Linked DNA regions of Homo sapiens: region 2 is linked to region 1. Evidence: fine-mapped expression QTL. A gene starts in region 1. The other region holds a variant in brackets. All regions are shown on one strand. Distances are from middle to middle.

The links. PIP is the estimated chance that this variant, and not a neighbour inherited with it, causes the effect. A credible set is the group of variants that fine-mapping cannot tell apart.
Region 2: its variant is the best candidate, but not a certain one, in a credible set for the expression of AKAP12 in whole blood (TOPMed, PIP 0.78).

The regions. Positions count from the first base shown.
Region 1 is chr6:151,231,256-151,248,075 of GRCh38, forward strand. AKAP12 (A-kinase anchoring protein 12) reads left to right here and starts at 8,712. Exons shown (of 5, transcript NM_005100.4): 1 at 8,712-8,804; 2 at 9,129-9,469. The coding sequence starts at 9,308. RefSeq lists enhancers at 8,515-9,024, 9,102-9,679.
Region 2 is chr6:151,354,465-151,362,464 of GRCh38, forward strand. It overlaps AKAP12 (A-kinase anchoring protein 12), which reads left to right. Exons shown (of 5, transcript NM_005100.4): 5 at 1,263-4,095. Among named protein-coding and RNA genes, the nearest start is that of ZBTB2, 33 kb to the right of the region's middle. RefSeq lists an enhancer at 324-825. The variant G/C (reference allele first, on the strand shown) is at 3,999.

The DNA of each region.
Region 1 (16,820 bases):
GCTGAGGCAGGAGAATTGCCTGAACCTGGGAGGCAGAGGTTGCAGTGAGCCAAGATCATACCACTGCACTCCAGCCTGGGCGACAGAGCCAGGCACCATCTCAAAAAAAAAAAAAACAACAAAAAAAAAAACAAAAAAAATTCAGCTTCTGGCCTGGTATGGTGGCTTATGCCTCTGATCCCTGTGCTTTGAGAGGCTGAGGTGGGAGGATTGCTTGAGGCCAGGAGTTTGAGACGAGCCTGGGCAACATAGGGAGACCCTGTCTCTACAAAAATGAAAAAAATTAGCTGGGTGTGATGGTGCACACCTGCAGTCTCATCTACTCAGGAGGCTGAGGTGGGAGAATCACTTGAGCCTAGGAAGTCAAGGCTGCAATGAGATGTGATCCCACTACTGCACTCCAGCCTGGGTGAGACCCAGTGAGACCTTGCCTCTAAAAAAGAAAAAGAAAAAAAATAGCTTCTAATGTTGGTGAACACTATGTGCTGACAGCTTTAATCATTATTGAAGCTTTTAAAAAATATAATTAGAGAATAGTTATATTAGGAGGCTGAGGCAGGAGGATTGCTTGAGCCCAGGAGTTCTAGACCAGCCTGGGCAACATAGTGAGACCCCAACTCTAAAAAGAAAAAAAGTTTACTTATGTGTTAATCTTGGAGAGCATCTTGCTGCATTACCTTGAGTGTTGCAAATGTTTACAGGCAAGTGAATATATAATAGTTGTTATTAAATATAGGCCATAAGAATGATATGGATTTTCTAAATTCAGAAAGTATGAACCATGCTCAATTTTGTTCAAATTAAATTTAGTCTAGAAAATGAACATTTAAAACCCCAAAGTCATCCCTTTTTTAATTTTCTTTTCTTTCTTTTTTTTTTTGTGTGTGTGTGCGTGGGTTTTTTTTGAGATAGAGTCTCGCTCTTGTTGCCCAGGCTGGAGTGCAGTGGCACGGTGCGATCTCAGCTCACTGCAACCTCTACCTCCTGGCTTCAAGTGATTCTCCTGCCCCAGTCTCCCAAGTAGCTGGGACTACAGGTGTGCGCCACCACACTCGGCTAATTTTTGTATTTTTAGTAGAAATGGGGTTTCACTATGTTGGTCAGGCTGTTCTCGAACTCCTGACCTCTGGTGATCCACCCGCCTCAGCCTCCCAAAGTGCTGGGATTACAGGCGTGAGCCACCGCACCTGGCCCTTTTTTTCTTTATCTGACTCTGAACACATCTTCATGATCCATTAGATTCCAACATGCATTTTACAAACTAGAGCCATGCTACACATTGGTGAGGAGAGAAACAGAGAGGTGAGAGACTCTTGCAGGAGCATTTGGAAATGATATCAGCCAGGAAGATTATAGTTGTGTCCACTACTTCTTCACTGGCAAGATGAAGCCAAGGAGTGAAAGGAGCTTTGTACAAAGCACTGCAGAGTCAGGAAATCTATTGTTTCTGTATTTTATCAAGTCTGATTGTTTCAGAGTTAACAAGCTTACAAGCAAAACAAAATACCAACCTGTTAATAAGGTGTTGATCTCTATCTTGGCTTATTTTAATATTAAAAGGGTATTTCAAATATACTGGAAAGTGAAGGAGGTTGTAAGTTGAACATAAACAGGTACCTTGGACCTTTATTTTAGCCCGTCTGAAAATACATATTTTATCATTCTTTTTCAGAAATTAAAATTTTCATTTTGAGTTAATTGTGGATTACCATGCAGTTGTGAGAAATAATACAGAGAGATCCCGTATACCCTTCACCCAGTTTTCCCCAATAGTAACATCTTGCAAAAATAGAGTGCAATATCACAACCAAGATATTGACATTGATACAGTCAAGGAACAGAACATTCCCATCCCATAAAAATCCCTCTTGTTGCATTCTTACAGCAACACCCAGTTCTCTCCACCCTCTACCCTTCTTTAACCCTTAGCTACCACTGACTTCTTCATTTCTGTAATTTTGCCATTTCAAGTCTGTCATATAAATGGGATCATTTGTATGTAACCTTTGGGGATTGACAGGTTTCTTTCAGCAGAATTCTCTGGAGATTCATGCAGGTTGTTGCATATATTAATAGTTTGTTTCTTTTTATTGTTGACTAGTATTTCATGGTATGGGCAGATCAGTTTGTTTAACTAACATGTTGAAGGGCATCTAGGTTTTCCATTTTGGGGCTATTTCAAGTAAAGCTGGTATAAACTGCATGTTCAAGTTGTTACGTGAAGCTCCAGGAGTGTAACTGTAAGGTCATATGGTATGGTAGTTGCATGTTTCTTGTCTTTTTTGTTTTTTGGCTTCTTAGTTTTTTAAGAAGCTGCCGGCTAGGCACAGTGGCTCACACCTGTAATCCCAGCACTTTGGGAGGCCGAGGCAGGCAGAACACTTGAGGTTAGGTGTTCGAGACCAGCTTGGCCAACATGGTGAAACCCTGTCTCTACTAAAAATACAAAAATTAGCTGGGCGTGATTTGCGCCTGTAATCCCAGCTGCTTGGGAGGCTGAGGCACAAGAATCGCTTGAACCTCGGAGGTGGCGGTTGCAGTGAGCCAAGATCGCACACCACACTCCAGCCTGGACGACAGAGTGAGACTCAGTTTAAAAAAAAAAAAGAAGCCGCCAAACTGTCTTCCAGAGTGACTATGCTATATTACATTCCCACCAGCAGTGTATGAGTGATCCAGTTTCTCTGCAGCCTCATCAGCATTTGGCGTTGTCACTATTGTTTTCACTTTAGCCACCCTGATCATTGTGTAGTGATATCTCACTGTGGTTTTAATTTGCTTTTCCCAAATTGCACACAATTTATTTGCCACCTGTAGATCCTCTTTGATAAAATGTTGCTTCAAGTATTTTACCTGTGTTCTTGTTGATTTTTTGTTTGTTTGCTTGTTTTTTTACTGCTGAGTTTTAAGGATTCTTTCTATATTTAGATACTAGTCCCTTGTGGGATATGTGGTTTGCAAACATTTTCTCCCAATCTGTAGCTTTTCTTTTCATCTTTTCAACTGGGTCTTATGTAGGACAAAAGTTTTAAATTTTGGTGAAGTCCAATTTATAGTTTTTCCTCTTATGGATCATGCTTTTTGTATCAAGTCTAAGAACTATCCTGCTTAGCCTTAGCTTCCTAAGATTTTCTCCTGTCTTTTCATTTTTTTTGTTTTGAGACGGAGTCTCGCTCTGTCTCCCAGGCTGGAGTGCAGTGGGGAGATCTTGGCTCACTGCAAGCTCCGCCTCCCGGGTTCACGCCATTCTCCTGCCTCAGCCTCCTGAGTAGCTGGGACTACAGGCTTCCGCCACCATGCCCGGCTAATTTTTTGTATTTTTAGTAGAGACTGGGTTTCACCTTGTTAGCCAGGATGGTCTCGATCTCCTGACCTTGTGATCCGCCCACCTCAGCCTCCCAAAGTGCTGGGATTACAGGCGTGAGCCACCGCGCCTGGCCTTCTCCTGTCTTTTCTAAAAGTTTTACAGTTTTGTGTTTTACGTGTAAGTCTGTGATCCATTTGTAGTTAATTATTTTATCAGATGTGTGACATAAGTCAAGGTTAACTTTTTGCCCATGAATGTCCAATTGCTTCAGCACCATTTGTTGAAAGGCTGTCATCCACCATTGAATTACTTTTGCACCTTTGTCTTTTTAAAAAATACATTTATTTATTTATTTATTTATTTATTTACTAGTGACATCTCCATGTGAATACTTTTGAGCCTTTGTCAAAAATCATTTGGGCATGTTTATATAGGTTTATTGCTATTGTTATGATTTTAAAAGCATTTAGCAAGCTAACTTAAAGGAATACAAAATAAACATTAGATCAGGTTATCCACCTTTCCTTTGTGTATTGCTAGTTGAGATGTTTATCAATTCACAACCTAATCTTTTTTTCTTTTTTATTTTTTTTGAGACAGAGTCTTACTCTTTCGCCCAGGCTGGAGTGCAGTGGCGCGATCTTGGCTCACTGCAACCTCCATCTCCCAGGTTCAAGCAATTCTCCTGCCTCAGCCTCCCAAGTAGCTGGGATTACAGGCGCACACCACCACGCTTGGCTAATTTTTGTATCTTTTTAAAGTAGAGACGGGGTTTCACCATGTTGGCCAGGCTGGTCTCAAACTCCTGACCTCAGGTGATCCACCCGCCTCCGCCTCCCAAAGTGCTGGGATTATAGATGTGAGCCACCGCACCAGGCCACAAAGGGATTTAAGTTGGTAGAGGAACATAAAATCTACAGTTCACATCGTATAATATATTGTATAATAGCTTTGTTTTGAGTGCGCAATGTTGACTTATTGAAGCAAAGTTTCCAACTTTGAAAAGTCCTCTGCATTTTGCCTGGCACTCAACTCAGTGAAAGTTTATTTAATTAATATGTGAAAAATATATATTTTAATGTTGGATACTTATAGGGTCCTTTGTAGAAGGGATTTGAAATTGTGAGGATTACAGCCACTTGATCTACCCTGGAATGTAGACACCTTCCACATACCTTCTGGTATCTTCTAACAGTGCATCCTGAGAAATTCTTTCTCCATATTGGACACATCATTTACTCTATCTTGGTTCCAGTCCCTCCTTTGTTACTTGAGAGTAATCCTGAATTTGAGTCAGGCACCAATCTTAAACCTTGGTAAATGAAACTGAGATCCAAATAGCTGGCTTTATACTTAACTCCAAAGCAATAAATTCCTTAAGAGTTACAAGGATAGCATTTGCCTATATATATATACGTGATGTATGTCTACAAGCGGCTGAGCTTTAAACTTCATCTGTAAATTGAACATTTTCTGTAGCTTCCATATGAATTTTAGATTATTAAGTACTCATGAATTGAATACAACTGTTAATTCTTCTAGTTTATAATTAGCAAATTATAATTAATGCTCTAAAATAATCCGTCTCAAATCCTCACATAGAAAGTAAAATTCAAATAATTTACTCACAGTTTCTTCCATAGACTTCTCAACAGGGTAATAACATTATTCTTGGTTATTTATTTTCCAGGCCATGTAAATGTTAATATTCTTATTTGTAAAAAGTAAAATCATATCTTAAGAGATGCATGCGCACATTCTAGTACTCTCTATTCTGCCTGAAACAGCTCTGTGATAAGGGAGTATTAAGAATAACAAATTCACACGAGCACAAGATAGAGTGGGAATTAGGTTCTTAGATGACTGGATATCTCTGTGGGAACAACTGGTTTAGAAAGAAGTAGGTGTTTTATCCAGGGAAAACAAAGAAGTTATAATCAAGAGAGAAGCAGTTTCAAAGGTGAAGGTGAAGAGTTGCCAGTCTCAGCGAAGGCTTTGTAACTAGAGAATGAATCTTTAGGGTAGAGTTAACGGTAGATTTTAAACTGTTTTAATAATTAAAATTATTATTGCACTTTGAAGGGGGTGTCTGAACTCAGTTGTAAAATGTTTGACATTTGTGAATTCCTTTAATGTTATATTTGAAACTGTTTTGGTGCATGCACAAGGTGCCCAACTATGACTCTACATTTTATTGTTAAACCTCATGTGACCCGTCTTTCTGGAGAAGTATGTGTGCGAAGTACAGGTTCAGCCTGCTACACAGGCAACATGTATTTGTTTTTGAGAAATCTCAAACTGTGTTTATGAGAGAATTAACCCTCTCAGGGAAACAGCTCTACCAACGACTGCCCCATGGGAGAGGATGTGTGGGGACACCTGCATCCTGCTATTTGGAGAAAAATTGAGCTGCTGGTGAGACATTGAACCAACAGCCTTGGACTGAGAAGTGAAAAATAGAGAACACCTGCCTCCCCTCTACTCTGATGCCAATCCAAGCAATTCCGAAGGCATCTTGGAAGCCCTAGAAAAGAAAACCTCAGTGACTCGATTTAGAACCTTGGAAACTAGAGTGGTAACTTTGTGCTTGGCACATAATAGGTACTTGATAGAAATTTATTGAAAGAAAGAAAGAGAAGAAGGAAAGAAAGAAAAAGAAAGAAAGAACAGAGAAGAAGGAAAGAAAGAAAAAGAAAGAAAGAAAGAAAAGTAAAAAAAGTAACAAACTTTGTAGCATTCTGAAGCACTAAGTGGCATACCCAAAAGGTTGGGCTATTTCATCGCTAGAGGTCATTAATAACACAACCACTTTTCTTTTCTTCTCTTTTTTTTTTTTGAGACAGGGTCTCACTATGTCATCCAGGCTGCAGTCTGGAACTCCTGGGCTCAAGTGATCCTCCCGCCTCAGCCTCCCAAGTAGCTAGGACTACAGGCATGCACCACCACTCCTGGCTAAATTTTTTTTTATTTTTTGTAGAGATGGGAGTTTCACTGTGTTGCCCAGGCTGGTCTTGAACCCCTGGTGTCAAGCAATCCTTCCACTTCAACCTCCCAAAGTGCTGGGATTACAGGCGTGAGCCACCGCGCCCAGCGCAATGATTTTACTTTTTACAAATAAGAGTATGAACATTTACATGGCCTGGAAAATAAACAAAAAGCAAGTAACTGCTAATCTAAGCAGATGCTGATATCTTCCTCAGCACGTAGGTTGTACACTGTTGGCTTGACCCTGCAATCCTTTCTGAAAATTTAAAGGGTAGTAGATGTGAAAAGCTTTGCTAAGAATTTCCCAGGAACAAAGTAAATATAATCTCACAGAATGTGAAAATGTTGATAGTATTTGTGCTACTTACTGATACATTTTCAAATGTGCTGACGTTAATCATTCTCAAATAGTTTTTTTTTTCTTCTTCTTTTTTTTTTTTTGGGACGGAGTCTTAATCTGTCATCCAGGCTGGCGTGCAATGGCATGATCTCAGCTCACTGCAACCTCCACCTCCCAGGTTCAAGCAGTTCTCGTGTCTTGGCCTCCTGAGTAGCTGGGATTACAGACACGCGCCACCATGCCTGGCTAATTTTTGTACTTTTAGTAGAGACGGGGTTTCACCATGTTGCCCAGGCTGGTCTTGAACTACTGTCCTCAGGTGATCCACCCACCTCGGCCTCCCAAAGTGCTGGGATTACAGGTGTAAGCCACCACACCTGGCCTCAAGTAGGTTTTAACAGTGCTTTTTGCTCTTAAAATCCTAAGTGAGGTCCAAATGCCACGTTTCAGTAACACCTCTGAGAGGAGAGAACACAGTTGATTGAAAGGGAAGGGGAGTGCCATGCGGTGGTGAAGCGTGGACCCTGAAAGCAGATGCCAGTTGGACTTCCTGCTCTTCCAACTCCTGGCTGTGAAACCTGAAGCACACAATTTAATTTCTCCGGGCCTACTCCTCCCCCTCCTGCCAATGGTAAAATGAGAATAATACTATCTATCCCATGGGGTTATTGTAAAGATTATTATGTAAAGTGCATTGAACAGTGCCTGGTACAGAGTAAGAATTCTAATGTTTCCTAAATAGTCAAAATTTAAGTCAAAATGGGGGAAATGTGTATAAATTCCTAAAACTAAGCATTTTGCAAATATACTGTTTCTTAAGAGATAAACTCCAGAGAAATTGGCCTTCGTGTAGTCCTTTAAATAAAAATAATTAATTCAGAAAACAGGCCCAGTGTGGTGGTTCACACCTATAATCCCAGCACTTTGAGAGGCCAAGGCAGGAGGATCGCTTGAGCTCAGGAGTTCAACACTAGCCTGGGCAACACAGCGAGACCTTGTCTCAAAAAAAGAAAAAGAAAAAAAATTAATTCAGAAAACAAATTTGATGGTGAGTAACTAACCTATGGTTCCCAGGGTACCATTCGATTCATGCAATTCATTAGGCATGAAACATCCTAGTGCTGAACTACTGCTTACACCCTTTCTACAAAATTGTACTAAATCTGAGTATGAGATATTTATCTGGAATTTGGTGTGAATATTCCGAAAGTTTCTTCCTTCTTTCTTTCTTTTTTTTTTTTGACAGAATCTTGCTCTGTCGACTAGGATGGAGTGCAGAGGCACAGTCATAGCTCACTGCAGCCTCGAATTCCTGGGCTGAAGTCATCCTTCTACCCCAGCGTCCCCAGCCTCCTGAGTAGCTAGGACTACAGGTGCACCACTGCGCCTGGCTAATTTTTTTATTTTTTGTAGAGACAAGGTCTCGCTATGTTAACCAGGCTGGTTTCTTCATTCTTAATGGAGATTCAAAGTATTTGTGAAAACTGGGGCACTCGGTTGCTAGTTACAACTGGAATAAATTTTGTCTTTCAGCCCCAAAGCCTTAATGCTTTGCGCCAAGCAATCCAGCTACAAATTTAATTTAGTTCAAATACTTATTGATTGGCTGCCATGCTCATGTAATACATATTATATTCAAGGGTCGGAAATGAAAGGATGCAAGCCACTTGTGCTGGTATTATTTAAAGTCTTCATCTTTTGAGAAAGGCTGACGGCAAAGGAACAGATCTATGCTGTCATGTGTCGGCATCGCGCGGAGCAGAGGTGGCCTGGATGGGTAACTTCCAGCACAGGCCCTCAAAGAAGGACGGGCACATTTCCGGTAACAGCCTCATTTCCCCCCGTTCCCCGGGGGAAGGGGGGCGGCTAGCACTGCTGATGGCATCGCCTGACATCACTTGTTCCGGAGGATAGGAGAGCGTGGGCCTGCGTGGCCCACCTCATCCGTGGCCTGACTGCGTTAACCTCTCGGTTCCCTGCTCTTGCCACGTGAGGTGCCCAAATATGGTCGGACTCAGGAGGAGCCAGGGAGCGCTTGCCTTTCTCCTGCTAATGGGGAGGAGGCTGGAACAAATGTTTGGAGTTAAACACAATCTGCAGGAAAGCAAATGGGGACTCGGACTCGCTCCTGGGCGAGCTGAAAGTCGGCTGCAGCAGAAGCTCCTGCCTTGGGTGATCCATCATTTAATAAACCCCAGAGAATCCAGTGTCCCCGGCAGGCTTTTTGCTCCCCTGCTCTCTTGCCTTCTGAGGCCCTGGGTCGTCCCCGCAGCTCTAGTCGCCCTGTTAGAAACGGGAGGCGCCCGAGGGCCGGGTGGGCGGCTGCCTGGACCTGGGCTGGCGCGTCGCAGCGCCTCTGGTCCCGGCAGCCTGGGGGCAGATGCTGCTGCAGGGCGTGTCTGGGGCTGTGCTCATGTGATGAAGCGAGGGAAAAACCGGGGGGAGGGGGGCGGAGGCTAAGAGGTGGCCTTTTTTTTTTTTTCCTTTTCTTTTAAGGAGTTTGCCGCGAGCGCGTCTCCTTCATTCGCAGGCTGGGCGCGTTCGCAGTCGGCTGGCGGCGAAGGAAGGCGCTCTCGGGACCTCGCGGGCGCGCGTCTTTTGGCTCTTGCCCCTGTCCCTGCGGCTTGGGGAAGGCGTAACCCGGCGGCTAGGCGCGGGAGAAGTGCGGAGGAGCCATGGGCGCCGGGAGCTCCACCGAGCAGCGCAGCCCGGAGCAGCCGCCCGAGGGGAGCTCCACGCCGGCTGAGCCCGAGCCCAGCGGCGGCGGCCCCTCGGCCGAGGCGGCGCCAGACACCACCGCGGACCCCGCCATCGCTGCCTCGGACCCCGCCACCAAGGTACGGGCGTGCCGGGCCACCTGCGCCGGGAGGCGCGGGTCTTTGGGGGTGGGGGTGGGGGTGGGGGGGTCCCTCCGATTTCCGCCGAGAGAACTTCCCAGCCCATCCAGCCGCATCTGCAAACTCAGGAGTGCGAACCCCTCTTTGGAGGCTTTTCAGGGTCTTTCGCGCCGGGGCGGGGCCAGAGCAGCGGCGAGCGCGGCGGGGGGCTTGCATCTTTGTCGCGGGTCTCCAGGGGAGGCGACTGCGCCATGCGCAATAATAAAACCCGCGCCCTGCCCACGGCGGCTGAGCCTTTCTGCGCACTCTTCCGGTGGGAGCCATGCAGCCCGAGGCGGAGGAGCTGCGCGGAGGGGGATCCGTGGAGAATGGACCCCGGGCCGGGCCTCCGGAGCTCCGAGATGCGGAAAGTCAGCTGTGAGGCCAGGACTCGTGGTGGAGCCCGCCGGGGAGCCCAGCCACCCTCGGGTTCCCCGTCGCGTACCGCCCTGGATGCCAGCGGTGCCTGGAGCGAGCGGGTTTGGTACCCAGTCCTCCTGCGGCAGCGGCCCGAGCAGGCACCGCCTTCCCGAGGCAGAGAAAGCCTGGGGTGTAGCTCGCTCAGAGCCAGGAAAAACCTGGGCAGGCGCTGCGTTTCCAGAAGGAATGACAGGTTTCGCAAACCAGCCAGCGCCCTCGCGTTCGCTCAGCGCTTTGCCTGCAGACTCAGTTGGCCAAACACACGCTAGAGTGGCTAGAAGTTCTCAAAGGATGGGGTCAGTGTAACGAGCATTCCGGGTACTCTTCCCTGGACGCAGTGCTGAAACGACTGCATTTTATCGGCTTCAGTCTTCAAGGCTGGAATATTTCTTGTGGGCCAGGACAGCCGCCAAGACTGTGGCTTGTTCTGGTCGTGGTATTTTAGATCTATTTTCCAGCGCATGTGTTCATTAGCAAGGCTTCACTCTACTGATTTTGTGATACCCTTGTATCACAAAGGTACCCTTGTGATACCTTGTAGAAAGATGTGGATAACCATGTTTAATAGTTAAATTTGCGGTATGTCAAATTTGAGGATAGAGTACGTGAGTTATCGCAGGAGGTGTAGATGTTTACAATATGCAAAAAAAAAAAAAAAAAGGAACCTACAACCATGACCTAATTGCCTTGACCTCCTTAGCTGCCCTAGTCTCTTTTGGGCTGAGAGACTGCTGTTAATAATATAGTTTTTACCGCCAGTCTTTGATTCATAACTACTTGTAAAATCCATGGTCCCTAGATATTAAGTACTAACTGTGTCTCTGTGCTATGTAGGTTTTTCTAAGAGATGCTTAAGCTTCTGGCCTGAGGAATGTACTGTCCTTTTGAGATTCAAGTCGCATTTTAATACTTACTGTATGCACATAATGTTTTGATGCCAGCTACTGTCAAAGTGGCTCTGTAACCAGTGGTCAGAGTCTAGCGATGAAAATAATTTTAAGGTATAATTGCTAAAAACTTGCAGTTGGGTGACATTCCCCCCACCGCCCCGGCTTTTATACTCCTTCAGATCTTACTAACTGTTCACCCTGAAATATGGGATTTAATCCCTTCCCAGTAAACTTGAATTTGTTTATTTAAAAATATTCCTTCCATTCTCTTTTTCCGTCTTCCATAACCTTATCCTTTTCCTCTTTCCAAGTTGCCAACCGTCTTGAAGCAACCAAACAACCTCCTTTTAAAAAATCACTTAAATGACATCCAGAATATCATTGAACTTGTTGGCATAATGCCCAGTTATCAATTTGGAGACAAATCAGTGCACTTACATGTATCCTTGGAATGTATTTAGTTTTCATTTGAACTAGCCAAATTTATCACTCAGGCTTTGAACACAAATGTCTTTTCAAAAGGACTCCCCAATTAAGAATGACTCAGCACCATGGCCCTTGCCTCCCCTCTTCTTGTTAAGCTCCAATTCCTGACCTCCAAGTAATCCCATCTCCCACTCTAGGCTCCGTGGCACCATGGACCCGTCCCAGCAGTTTTCACATGTGTGGGTTTAGTGTTCTTGCTGTTGTGAATACTTCGCAGGGGCAGGGAACACGCCTGGTTGTGCCGACCAACGGTGTTCCTTCATGCGTGCCATGTTGCCTGGCACAGAGGCAGCTCTCAGGAATACTTGTGGAAAGAGGAAGGGGTGATATTGGCTCCTTGGTTTTGATTGGAAAATATCAAGTTGGAGAATACCTTGACCTATCTGATTTTACTACAATTTAACCCTTGATCATTTCATTATCACGTGAGACTGATTATGATAGTGACTAAGGCAAGTCAGTCTGTTCGGTTATTAATAGATCAAGTGAATAGTTTGACCAAAAACTTCAGATTTGGGGGCTTTGGATTCTGTTTCTCTAGATATAGAGTGACTTGTTAGCATTGCAATTTCAAATTGCGTTTTATCTTAAATAGACAAATATATGAAGTGCATATGGCTCAAATGAGTCCATTTCATACCCTGAGTTACTTAGGATTACATCTTGAACTTCCTTGATGTGTCTGTGGACGGTTGGGGAGGTTTAGGCTAATACATCATTTTTCCCTCCTTGGATAGAATGTGGTCATTAATTAAAGGTTGTAGGCAGATCTTTTTCTATCTAATAGCTGACATTTATATCACATGCATGCTATCTATTTAGCAATTGGATTTACTTTCCTTTTTTTCTGCTAGTTTTAGTTACCAGTTATTCACTAAGTGCCCTTATCTGAACAGACATTACACTGGTTGAATTATCACTTGTATTAGGTCAAATGGAGAGTTAAACAAGCTTTTGATTACTCAGGCTTAACGTTTAGATGCACTAAAGCAGAAGTCTTGGTTTTATCTATGGTTCATTTCTGTAAAATGGAAGGAGTCTTTATCTTCTATTCAATCTTTTGTAATCTTTATTTTTTCCGTTAGATCCAGAGATAGACTGGAAATCTTTTACAGTCTTTATATGTAAGATCCAGGCGGGGGCAGGGGGAATGGCTTGGTCTGTTATCTGCCAGGGTTTAATTTTGAGACATGGCCGTTTCACAACTGCAGGGTGCGGGAAGATTAGATGACCTGAATGCTGGTGGTAAGTAAAGCCTCACACTTCACATTATTCCTTAATTGTCTGTTTTTAAAAATTTGTCTTAAAAAAATATTAAGGTGGCAACATATTCAGGTGGCAACAGAGGGTGGGGTGACCAGTGACAAACTGACTTCCATGTCTCTGGCTAATCTTGATTTCTGGAGCCAGGCTCCAGACTAAGTCTGGACAATCAATTAATTAGCCTTTCTATATGTATTGCCTGATGAATGATTTCAATGCTGGACATTGAACAATGGTCTGTTGCAACAGGGTGAGGCCATTGTCTCTGGCAGGTGGGGAGATGGGGGCTCTTGTTAGCTCCATTTGATTACAAGAGCCTTGAATCACCAAAACATAAAGATGTACTCGAATAGAAGAGTCCGTTGTCTGACTGGTAAATTTAAGGATGTGTTTGACCCTCGTGCATTAAAACAGACAATTGGCCGGGTGCGGTGGCTCACGCCTGTAATCCCAGCACTTTGGGAGGCTGAGGCAGGCAGATCACAAAGTCAGGAGATCCAGACCATCCTGGCTAACACGGTGAAACCCCATCTCTACTAAAAATACAAAAAATTAGCCAGGCGTGGTGGCGGGCGCCTGTAGTCCCAGCCACTCGGGAGGCTGGGACAGGAGAATGGCGTGAACTCGGGAAGCGGAGTTTGCAATGAGCCGAGTTGGCGCCACTGCACTCCAATCTGGGCAACAGAGCGAGACTCTGTCTCAAAGAAACAAACAAACAAACAAACAAAACCAGACAATTGAGGCGGCCAGCTGCATTTCATAATTCCTCCCATAAGCTTCCTCCTATTTGCCACTTGTTTAGCAATGGAAATGGAGAACGAAGATGGCCTCAAAGTGACTACATCACCAGTGTTACAAAAATGGGCCAGAATTTAAGGCAAGAATTATATGTTTCTTAATAGAGGGATGTTTCTCTGTGTGTGGCTACTTGTATTCCTGTGGATTTTTACCAGATTATAAGAGCTGCTAATTTCTGATCAGAACAGAGACCAAAAATTGGAGATATGGATGTGGGGATGATTCTTTTGGGTACCGATAGACTGCAGGAATCGCAGGGCTTCCTTTAAATCCATTACAGCTTATAGGCTAGTGGATGAATAAGATAAGTGGAGATTTTCTCTTGAAATATTTCCTTCTATGAAGAAAAGGCCTTGAAATGTGCATCCTCTTTGGGTTGACTAATTTCTATGCCTTTACAGCTTTAAGCTGACATTATAAGATTATTCTAGTTTGGATCTTGTAAGATAATTAACAAAATGGAAATAAAATGTTTTGTTTTTAAAAATGCTAATAAATTATTTATTTTCCTTTGTCTTAGTTAGTTTTAATACATATTCAGTGCTTAAAGAACACCAGTGCAGGAAAACTCAAACTAAATGGCATCATCCCCCATCTCTATAATTCTATATGCAGTAGCCATTCATGCGAAGTTAGAAATTAGAATTTATAGCACTAAGCATTCTAAGAAAAATTAAGCCAGTACGTTTATCTCTTGAAAAAAAAAAAAGCAACTAAATTTCCTTGAACCGAATTCTTTTTTTTGGCTCACTGCAACCTTTGCCTCCCAGGTTCAAGCGATTCTCCTGCCTCAGCTTTCCGAGTCGCTGGGATTACAGGCACCCACCACCACGCCCAGCTAAGTTTCTGTATTTTTAGTAGAGATGGGGTTTCACCATGTTGGCCAGGCTGGTCTCAAACTCCTGACCTCGTGATCCACCCGGCTAAGGCAGGAGAATGGCGTGAACCCGGGAGGTGGAGCTTGCAGGGAGCCGAGATGGCACCACTGCAGTCACCACTGCAGTCCAGCCTGGGCGACAGAGAGAGACTCCGTCTCAAAAAAAAAAAAAAAAAAAATCAAAAGCATGTGTTTACCCTTATTAATGATTTTTATTTAAAGTCATTGCATAGCAATATTCATTTAATGTTTATTTTTTAAAAAAATTAATGATTGAGAACTTAAATTTATAAGTAGGGTAAATTACTCACAAATTTAAGTAAAATTTGAAGCCAATATGATGGCTTCTTACATATTCTTTCGAAAACTTCATGCACATGAAAGTAGATAAAAATGGCACAGTCTTTTCCATTTAAGAAAAAGATCATATCACATATAGATTTAGGTTTTGGATGTCTTTTCATATCAGGACATAAATAACTGCCCCCATTCTTATTAATTTGGGTGCATAAATTTCCCTTTTGTGGGTTGAAGCCCTGTAACGATTTAACCAATTCCTTGGGTTTATATTTAGATTGTCCTCGTCCATAAGTGTAATTGCTGAATTGCAAGCTTTATATGCATTTAAAAATTTAACCCGGCAAGGTGCGGTGGCTCACGCCTGTAATCCCAGCACTTTGGGAGGCCGAGGCAGGTGAATCACAAGGTCAGGAGTTCGAGACCAGCCTGGCCAACATGGCGAAACCTCGTCTCTACTAAAAACACAAAAAATTAGCTGGGTGTGGTGGCAGGTGCCTGTAATCCCAGCTACTTGGGAAGCTGAGGCAGGAGAATCTCTTGAACCTGGGAGGGGGAGGTTGCAGTGAGCTGAGATCTCACCACTGCATTCCAGCCTGGGTGACAGTGCAAGACTCCGTCTCAAAAACAAAAACAAAAACAAAAACAAAAAATTTAACCCTTCCTAAATTGACTTTCCAAAGAGGTTCTACCACTTTGCAGTTCCACCGTGGAGATCAGCACTCGTTTTCCCATGCTTTGCCTTCATGGGTATCAGATTTTCCAATACTTGCCAATGTGCTAGGTGAAGAATGGTACCTCAGTTTCCTTGGTGCATTTTTAACTGTGAAGTTGAATGCCTCATCATGTTTCTCTGCCATGTGCTTGCCATCTGATCATGCACTGGTCTGGCTGTCAGAGCATGAAAGGCTATGGTTTGTTTCACTGTTAATTAATTTTCATTTTCATTTTCATTTAACTTTAATTTTATTTATTTATTGTTTTTGAGATAGGCTCTCATTCTGTTGCCCAGTGTGGAATGCAGTGGTGCAATCTTGGTTTACTGCAGCCTCGACCTCCTGGGCTCAAATGACCCTCCTACTTCAGCCTCCTGAGTAGCTGGGACTACAGGCACACACCACCAGGTAGCTGGGACTACAAGTGCACACCACCATGCCTGGCTAATTTTGTTTATTTTTGGTAGAGACAAGGTCTCACTGTGTTGCCCAGGCTGGTCTGGACCTCCTGGACTGAAGTGATCCTCCCACCTCTGCCTCCCAAAGTGCTGAGATTACAGGTGTGAGCCCCCATGCCCTGCCCAATTAATTTTTAAAGATTTTTTTTTCTAGCCAGGTGTGGGGGCTCACACCTGTAATCTCAGCACTTTGAGAGGCCAAGAAGGGAGGATCACTTGAGAGAAAGTTCAAGAGTGGCCTGGGCAACATAGCAAGACCCCATCTCTACAAAAAATAAAAAATTTAGCTGGGTGCGGTGACGTGTACCTGTAGTCCTAGCTACTTGGAAGGCTGAGGTGAGAGGATTGCTTCCACCCAGGAGTATGAGGCTGCAGTGAGCTATGATCATGCTACTGCACTACAGCCTGGGTGGCAGAGCAAGACCCTATCTCTATTTAAAAAAACAAAACAAAACAAAAAAACAAAAAAACTTTTTCCCCAGAAATTAATCAAATTGGAAAAAAGCAAGTTCAAGAATAAAAACGCAGCTGAGGTAGAGCAGTCTTACTCTCCTTTGCTCCTTTTCCTTTCCAAATTAATGAACCATCTTTAAATTTATTTGCTTGGAGGATGACCTACTTCTTTAGCTATCACTTTTAAAATTTCTTCTCTTGGAACAATCTAAAATCATTTAGTTGCCAGAAATTACTTTGTGGTCATGATCCGTGAAATGTTGAGATCAGGGATTGGAAGCAGCAGAAATCCACCTCTTGGGAAAACAATAGAGTGAAGGCTTACCCGGGATCCTCTCCCGTTCTCACGGCAAACAGCCTGGCTCTGTTAACTGGATGGTATACATGGATTTTCTGAGAAAAATGTAGGTGTTCAAAGCACAGGAAACCATCTGGGACACCGGGACACCATTAGGCACCTCTTAATACAAGTATTCATTTCAGGTTCAAAGCTTTTTGTCTTCCCTGTGATTTCTCTGTGATGTTTTTTAAATGGGGGAAACCCTGTAGTTTCTCTCTGCCTAATCTTAATCCCAGTTGTAGTAGCATGTCAGTTTCATGTTTGATTTCAAAACGAAATAAACCAAAATTTAAGAAGGAGAGATTACTGCAGTT
Region 2 (8,000 bases), 120 kb after region 1:
CCAGGTTCACGCCATTCTCCTGCCTCAGCCTCCCGAGTAGCTGGGACTACAGGTGCCCGCCACCATACCCAGCTAATTTTTTGTATTTTTAGTAGAGATGGGTTTTCACCGTGTTAGCCAGGAGGTCTCGATCTCCTGACCTCGTGATCCGCCCGCCTTGGCCTCCCAAAGTGCTGGGATTACAGGTGTGAGCCACCACGCCCAGCCCTATCTTTGTTTTGTTTTTTGAGAGAGCCTTGCTGTGTCACCCAGGCTGGAATGCCGTGGTGCAATCATGGATTGCTGCAACCTTGACTTCCTGGGCTAAAGCAAATCGCCTGCCTCTGCCTCTGTCTCCTGAATAGCTGCTGGGACCACAGGCACATGTCATTACTCCGAGCTAATTGTTAAATTTTTTTGCAGACAGGGGTCTTGCTATGTTGCCCAGGCTGGTCTCAAACTCCTGGCCTCAAGAAATCCTCCTGCCTCACCCTCCCAAAGTGCTAGGATTACAGTCGTGAGCCACTGTGCTCAACCCATCTTCGTTTTCTTTTGTTTTGTTTTGTTTTTGAGACAGAGTCTCACTCTGTCACCCCGACTGGAGTGCAGTGGCGCAATCTCAGCTCACTGCAACCTCAGTCTCCCAGGTTCAAGCGATCCTCCTGCCTCAGCCTCCTGAGTAGCTGGGATTACAGATAACACACCACCATGCCCAGCTTAGTTTTGTATTTTTAGTAGAGACGGAGTTTCCCCCAGGATGGTCTTGAACTCCTGACCTCAAGTGATCTGCCCGCCTCGGCCTCCTAAAGTGCTGGGATTACAGGCATGAGCCACCGCACCCAGCCCTATCTTTGTTTTTTGTTTGTTTGTTTGTTTTTGAGACAGAATCTCGCTCTGTCGCCAGGCTGGAGTGCAGTGGCACAATCTCAGCTTACTGCAACCTCCACCTCCTGGGTTCAAGCGATTCTCCTGCCTCAGCCTCCCGAATAGCAGGGACTATAGGTGCATGCCACCATGCCCAGCTTATTTTTGTATTTTTAGTGGAGACAGGGTTTCAACATGTTGGCCAGGATGGTCTCGATCTCTTTACCTCATGATCTGCCCTCCTCAGCTTCACAAAGTGCTGGGATTACAGGCATGAGGCACCGCGCCCGGCCCCATCTTTGTTTTTTTAATGGAGTTAAACTATGGTATTATTAGGTCACTTTGACAACTATCCTGTTGTTAATAAATGAGAGAGAAAAAGGAGATTTTATTTACGCTGATTCTTCCTCCTCCTACAGTTAAACTCATTGTCTGTTTGGAAGACCAGAATGTGAAGACAAGTAGTAGAAGAAAATGAATGCTGCTGCTGAGACTGAAGACCAGTATTTCAGAACTTTGAGAATTGGAGAGCAGGCACATCAACTGATCTCATTTCTAGAGAGCCCCTGACAATCCTGAGGCTTCATCAGGAGCTAGAGCCATTTAACATTTCCTCTTTCCAAGACCAACCTACAATTTTCCCTTGATAACCATATAAATTCTGATTTAAGGTCCTAAATTCTTAACCTGGAACTGGAGTTGGCAATACCTAGTTCTGCTTCTGAAACTGGAGTATCATTCTTTACATATTTATATGTATGTTTTAAGTAGTCCTCCTGTATCTATTGTATATTTTTTTCTTAATGTTTAAGGAAATGTGCAGGATACTACATGCTTTTTGTATCACACAGTATATGATGGGGCATGTGCCATAGTGCAGGCTTGGGGAGCTTTAAGCCTCAGTTATATAACCCACGAAAAACAGAGCCTCCTAGATGTAACATTCCTGATCAAGGTACAATTCTTTAAAATTCACTAATGATTGAGGTCCATATTTAGTGGTACTCTGAAATTGGTCACTTTCCTATTACACGGAGTGTGCTAAAACTAAAAAGCATTTTGAAACATACAGAATGTTCTATTGTCATTGGGAAATTTTTCTTTCTAACCCAGTGGAGGTTAGAAAGAAGTTATATTCTGGTAGCAAATTAACTTTACATCCTTTTTCCTACTTGTTATGGTTGTTTGGACCGATAAGTGTGCTTAATCCTGAGGCAAAGTAGTGAATATGTTTTATATGTTATGAAGAAAAGAATTGTTGTAAGTTTTTGATTCTACTCTTATATGCTGGACTGCATTCACACATGGCATGAAATAAGTCAGGTTCTTTACAAATGGTATTTTGATAGATACTGGATTGTGTTTGTGCCATATTTGTGCCATTCTTTTAAGAACAATGTTGCAACACATTCATTTGGATAAGTTGTGATTTGACGACTGATTTAAATAAAATATTTGCTTCACTTAGATTTGCTGGTTTTATTAGATACCAGGAAGCCTGGGACATATGTGTACCACATTAGAATTCTAAAGATAATGATTGATAAGCTAGAACTTTCTGATGTAGTCATTACATGAAACCCCTTGTCACTGGTTTGTGTGTTCAGAGGAAGCCATGGCCGAGATAGCTTTCCTGAAATAAACCAGTAGCTTTTCAGATTGACGTTCTTGCTACAATTGTACCATCTGGTAATTCCTGAAAATGTCAATTTTTTTGTGTTAATATTTTTGGTTTCAAACAATAACAAATGTCTCTAGAAAGAAATTTTAAGAAAGCTTAATTAATAGTAAAAATGCCTTTCCTGAAATAATCTTGGAAAATTTTTTAAATGTCAAAATGATGAGTCATGCTAATACATTGAGGGTTTGTTTTTTTGTTTGTTTGTTTGTTTGTTTTTGAGACAGAGTTTCGCTCTTGTTGCCCAGGCTGGAGTGCAATGGCACGATCTCAGCTCACCGCAACCTCCACCTCCCGGATTCCAGCGATTCTCCTGCCTCAGCCTACATTAAGGGTTTTGTCAGACAATTGTCACACGAAGAATAGTGTCACTTATCTACTCTTGACACACAGAACTGGCCTGGCATATAGCTTTCCAGATTTTACTCAAACTTGGTACTCCAGTTTGAAAATTTAAATTTTGACTGCTGATTAGCTGGAAAGCCTAGTTTTAATGGAAAGAAAGTTTGCTTTTAAAACTGAAAGTAGTTTCTTTTTGCTAACAAATCTAACTTCATACATAATTGGCCATATTAGTAAAACACCTCATGATAGCAGTGTATATATAGTCTTGTTTGTAGTTGGAAGTCATCTTTTAGGAGTTATTCTCAAATATATATAATAGCTACCCATGCATCATTATTAAAATCCCCAAATTCAAAAAACCTCTGATATATATATATAATTTTTTTTTTTTTTTTTTTTTGGCCAACTGAGATTGAAATCCAAGTGCTGGTTTCTAGTTCTGAACATCAACTAAAGAGTTTTGGAAATGACAGCAATTTATAACAAGTTCATATTGACTTCCTCTCTATGGCAGGAAGACATTCTGTGCTGTTTTGAACAGATTAAAGATTTGTGTAGTTTGTGGGAAATTGACGTTTTTGTTTAAATTCCACCCGCGTTTGTCTTTTCCTACCACCTGTGGCCAGGTGCTCGCTGGCCATCACAGTTGCGATTCCATGAGTAGCTGCTTTATGACTGCTTTTTGTACTATCTGGATGTGCCCAGAGTTACTTCTGTACAAGCTCTGTATCTATGTCCGTTGAGAACATTATTTTAACAAGAAGAACACCAACAGTAGCATGAAATATAATACTGTTTTATAATTCTAAAGCTGCTGTTAATTTATGAAGTACATAATAATCTAATGTAAACTGCAGAAGTCAGAGCAAGTGCCTACATTTTGTTATTTTTGGCATTACTACAGAGCCATGTACAATAGAAAGCAATGCAAGACTTGTAAACTCTCACCACTTCTTGTAATATCAAATGTTCCCCCTCAGGTTATTTTGCTTATGGTACCCATGAGTTGCCTCTCTCTGTACATAGATAAATTGTTCCAATATTTTCCTTTGATGTTTGGAACTACAGATAGTCAAGGGCTGGAAATTTTAGTTTTCAATATAAGCTTCCAGCTTAGCAATTACCTCTAGTC[G/C]AAGACAATATTTGATTCCTAGTTCTGTTTGGGGCAAATTTTCATTTATCTAAATAAAATGCAATCTAATTAAATGCCATGGATTTTCTTTCTGTAATTTCACTGTGATTCAGTTTCCATTGCTTTTCTCTTGTCTGTTGTGATATTCGTCATACATTTAAGCTCTGCTTTTAACTACTTAGCACCCTTTGTTCATAGAGCATCATGAGAGTTTGGAATGAATGTATCTAGGATAGGCGTGAGTCCACAAAGATCTCTATTCATGATCATAACCTTTTTGGGTCCTGGGCTCCTTTAATTAGAATCTCATTAAGCTTCTAGCTGACCTCGGACTCCCCAATATAAAGTTTTATGTACAGTTTTTGGATAGTCACACAAACCTTCTCTGAAATGCCAACCAATAACCAGAACCAGAGTTAGAACCTCTTTCTCCAACCCTGTAAGAAAGGAAATGGACGCAGTCCAAGGATTCCCAGATAGTAGCAGAGCTCGGAACCGGAACACAAAATCAGTGTCACATAAATTCAAATCTACATGACTATTTCTTTTAAACATTTATTTGTATTTTGATTTCATATTTTGTAGAGATGGGGTCTGGCTCTGTCACACAGGCCGGAAGGCAGTGATGCCATCAGAGCTCAGTGTAACCTTGAACCCCTGGACTCAAGGGATCCTCCCATCTCCTGAGTAGCTGGGACTACAGGCATGTGCCACCATGAGATGGGGTCTTGCCATGTTGCCCAGGCTGGTCTCAAACTCCTGGGCTAAAACAATTCTGTCTCGGCCCCCCAAAGTGTATTCTATTTTTTTTTGTTTTGAAATCCTAGTCAAGAATAGAGAATTATATACATCCATGTTTAATAGAGATGGGGTTTTGGTATGTTGCTTGGGCTGGTCTCAAAATCCTGGACTCAAGCAATCCACCCACCTCAGCCTCCCAGAGTGCTCAGATAACAGGCATGCGCCACCACACCTGGCCCTATTCTTTTTTAAATGAAAGTCATACAAATTTTATTAATGTGTACCTGGGAGCCTTCAGAATGAAGACCCAAAAATGCAGGGGAAATTGTCCATTTTAATATAGGTTCAACAAAGTATGGACGTGGAGAAATATGACTGGACAAAAGGGATATGATCTAATGCTAACAGACTGAGTGGGGAAACACAGCAAGGCCTGTCTGTCTAGATTCTTCTTGGTCTCTCTGAGCACGCATTCCTTCCTTCCGGGCATGGGGCATGGGGCAGGACGCTCTCTGGAATCAGAGACTTGTGACTTCAGTTAAACAACATGACCATTTTTTTCTTTTTCTTTTTCTCTTTTTTTTTTGAGACAGAGTCTCACTCCATCACCCAGGCTAGAGTGCAGTAGTGCAATTGAGGCTCACTGCAACCTCCGCCTCCCAGGTTCAAGCAATTCTCATGCCTCAGCCTCCTGAGTAGCTGGGACTGTAGGTGCCCACCACTATGCCCAGCTAATTTTTGCATTTTTAGTAGAGACGGAGTTTTTCCATGTTAGCCAAGCTAGTCTTGAACTGGCATCAACTGATCACCCGCCACAGCCTCCCAAAGTGCTGGAATTAGAGGCATGAGCCACTGTGCCCGGCCATGACTATTCATTTCTTTTTTTTTTTTTTTCAAGACGGAGTCTTACTCTGTCACCCAGGCTGGAGTGCAGTGGTGCGATCTCGGCTCACTGCAACCTCCGCCTACCGGGTTCATGCCATTCTCCTGCCTCAGCCTCCCGAGTAGCTGGGACTACAGGCGCCTGCCACCATGCCTGGCTAATTTTTTTATTTTTAGTAGAGACGGGGTTTCACCGTGTTAGCCAGGATGATCTTGATCTCCTGACCTTGTGATCCACCCGCCTTGGCCTCCCAGAGTGCTGGGATTACAGGCGTGAGCCACCGTGCCTGGCCGACTATTCATTTCTAATGAGATTCTGGAAATGGATCTGCTGGTCACAGACAACCTGGTATAACTTTGATACAAATGCGAGCTTCTCCTAACAGATTGCTTATTGTCTCCAACCTATATAATTGGAATTAGGAAAACAAGCTGAGCCCTTCTTTTAATATGAGAAAGCTGAGACTTTGAAGTGATAACACAGGTTGGGCTAAGCTAACCAGGATCTGAAGATAGCATGGTGGTGAAAATCATCATGATTTATTTATTTGAGAAAGGGTCTCACTCTATCACCCAGGCTGGAGTGCAGTCATGCAATCGTGGCTCACTGCAGCCTCAACCTCCTTGGCTCAAGCAATCCTCCCACCTCAGCCTCTACAACACCCACAGGTGTGCCCCACCATGCCCAGATAATTTTTTATATTTTGTAAAGACGGGGTCTCCCTATGTTGCTTAGGCTAGTGGTCTCCAACTCCTGGACTCTAGCCATCCTCCTGCCTTAGGCTCCCAAAGTGTTGGGATTACAGGTGTGAGACATCTTTACTGTAGTATTCTACAGTTATGAGTGAGGTCTTCTTGCAACTGTGCATATTCTTCTTCTATCACCTGTCGACATTAAAAGTTTTAACAGGAGAAGGGTAGTTTAACATGTAACCTTCAAGAGAGGCTTCACTGAGTATAACACCTATGTTTAGAGACCAGAGGTAGAATAACAATACCTAAATGATGAAATGAGGACCTAAGTCTAATGTGCCCACAAAAGAATATTGAGTACTAAAGCCCAGTGCTTAGTCTTAACCCTGTGTTTTTTTATTTGTTTTAATAATCTCAAATAACTAGGTATAATTAATGAACAAAGAGGCAATACTCTAAATAAGGCTAATTTTAAAACCACATTGTGCTTGATTCTACTTATCCCTGTGACCCTCAGGGGCTTACCTAATTCTTGGAAAAGTAGATGGAATTGCCTCTAGAATCTGAAATCTAAACATAACTAGGGTCCTTCTTAAAGACTATAGAAATAATACTGCAGAGATGGCCAGGGGGCCATTTCAAGATATGAGATTTATCCTACAAAGTCATTGAAATAGTTTGGCAGGGAAAAGATGCAATCCTCTTACCGTAGTGATCCGCAGTGTTGGGCTAGTGAAAGGTCCCACTCTCCACCCTGGTTTGTGCTGCCACGTGTCTGGTTACCACAACGGCTAGGATGTTACGGTATGTAATGAGTTACGGCCACAGATGTTTGACATCCTGCATGGCACAGAAAAACCCTGCATAAGACAGATGTTTCTACCTAAAATGTCAGTGGCATCTATCTTGCAGAGAATTGAGGCCTGGAGGTTGAGAGGAGGTCAGTTTACATGCTGTTAGAATAATCCAGGCAAGCTGGGTGTGGTGGGATGCAGCTGTAGTCCCAGGTAGGAGGCTGAGGTGGGAGGATCGCTTGAGCCTAGGAGTTCAAGATCAGCCTAACCAACACAGGGAGACTCCTGTCTCTTAAAAAAAAATAAAAAATACAATTAATAAAAGTTTAAAAAAAGAGAATAATCCAGACAAGAACTGATAATGGCCTATATTAAAGTAGGTGCAGTTTGGCTGGAGATCCGTGGGTGAGATCAAGAGCTGTTAGGAGGCAGATCGACAGGGCACGGTACCTGATTATCTTCTGTGGGAACTGTGGGGTGAAGAATGAAGTTTCTAGATTGCCAACCTGGATGTGGAGGCACATACTGACATGAGCGTGGAGGCAATTTGAGAAACCTAAGAGATATCCAAGAGTCAGTGGAGTTGGCAGCTCAGTATATGGGTCTCACAAACAATTCGGGACAGAGAGACAACTCTTTTGCCTCCTCTGTGTCCTTAGAAACACATAGAAGACAATCTACAAGATGCTTGCATCGCTTCTTAATAGCTCATGTGCAAACTTCAGCTTGGTGACTGAGAAAGAGTTCACCTGCCCTGTCTCAGCCATTCCTCATTTCAGAATGTGTAACTAAAGACTGTTCTTCACAAGATTTTCCCATTGTGAAAGTGCTTTATAAACGAGGAAGCAAATGTACCGTAAAGCATTAATATCGGTAACTGCAAGAGAAAGAC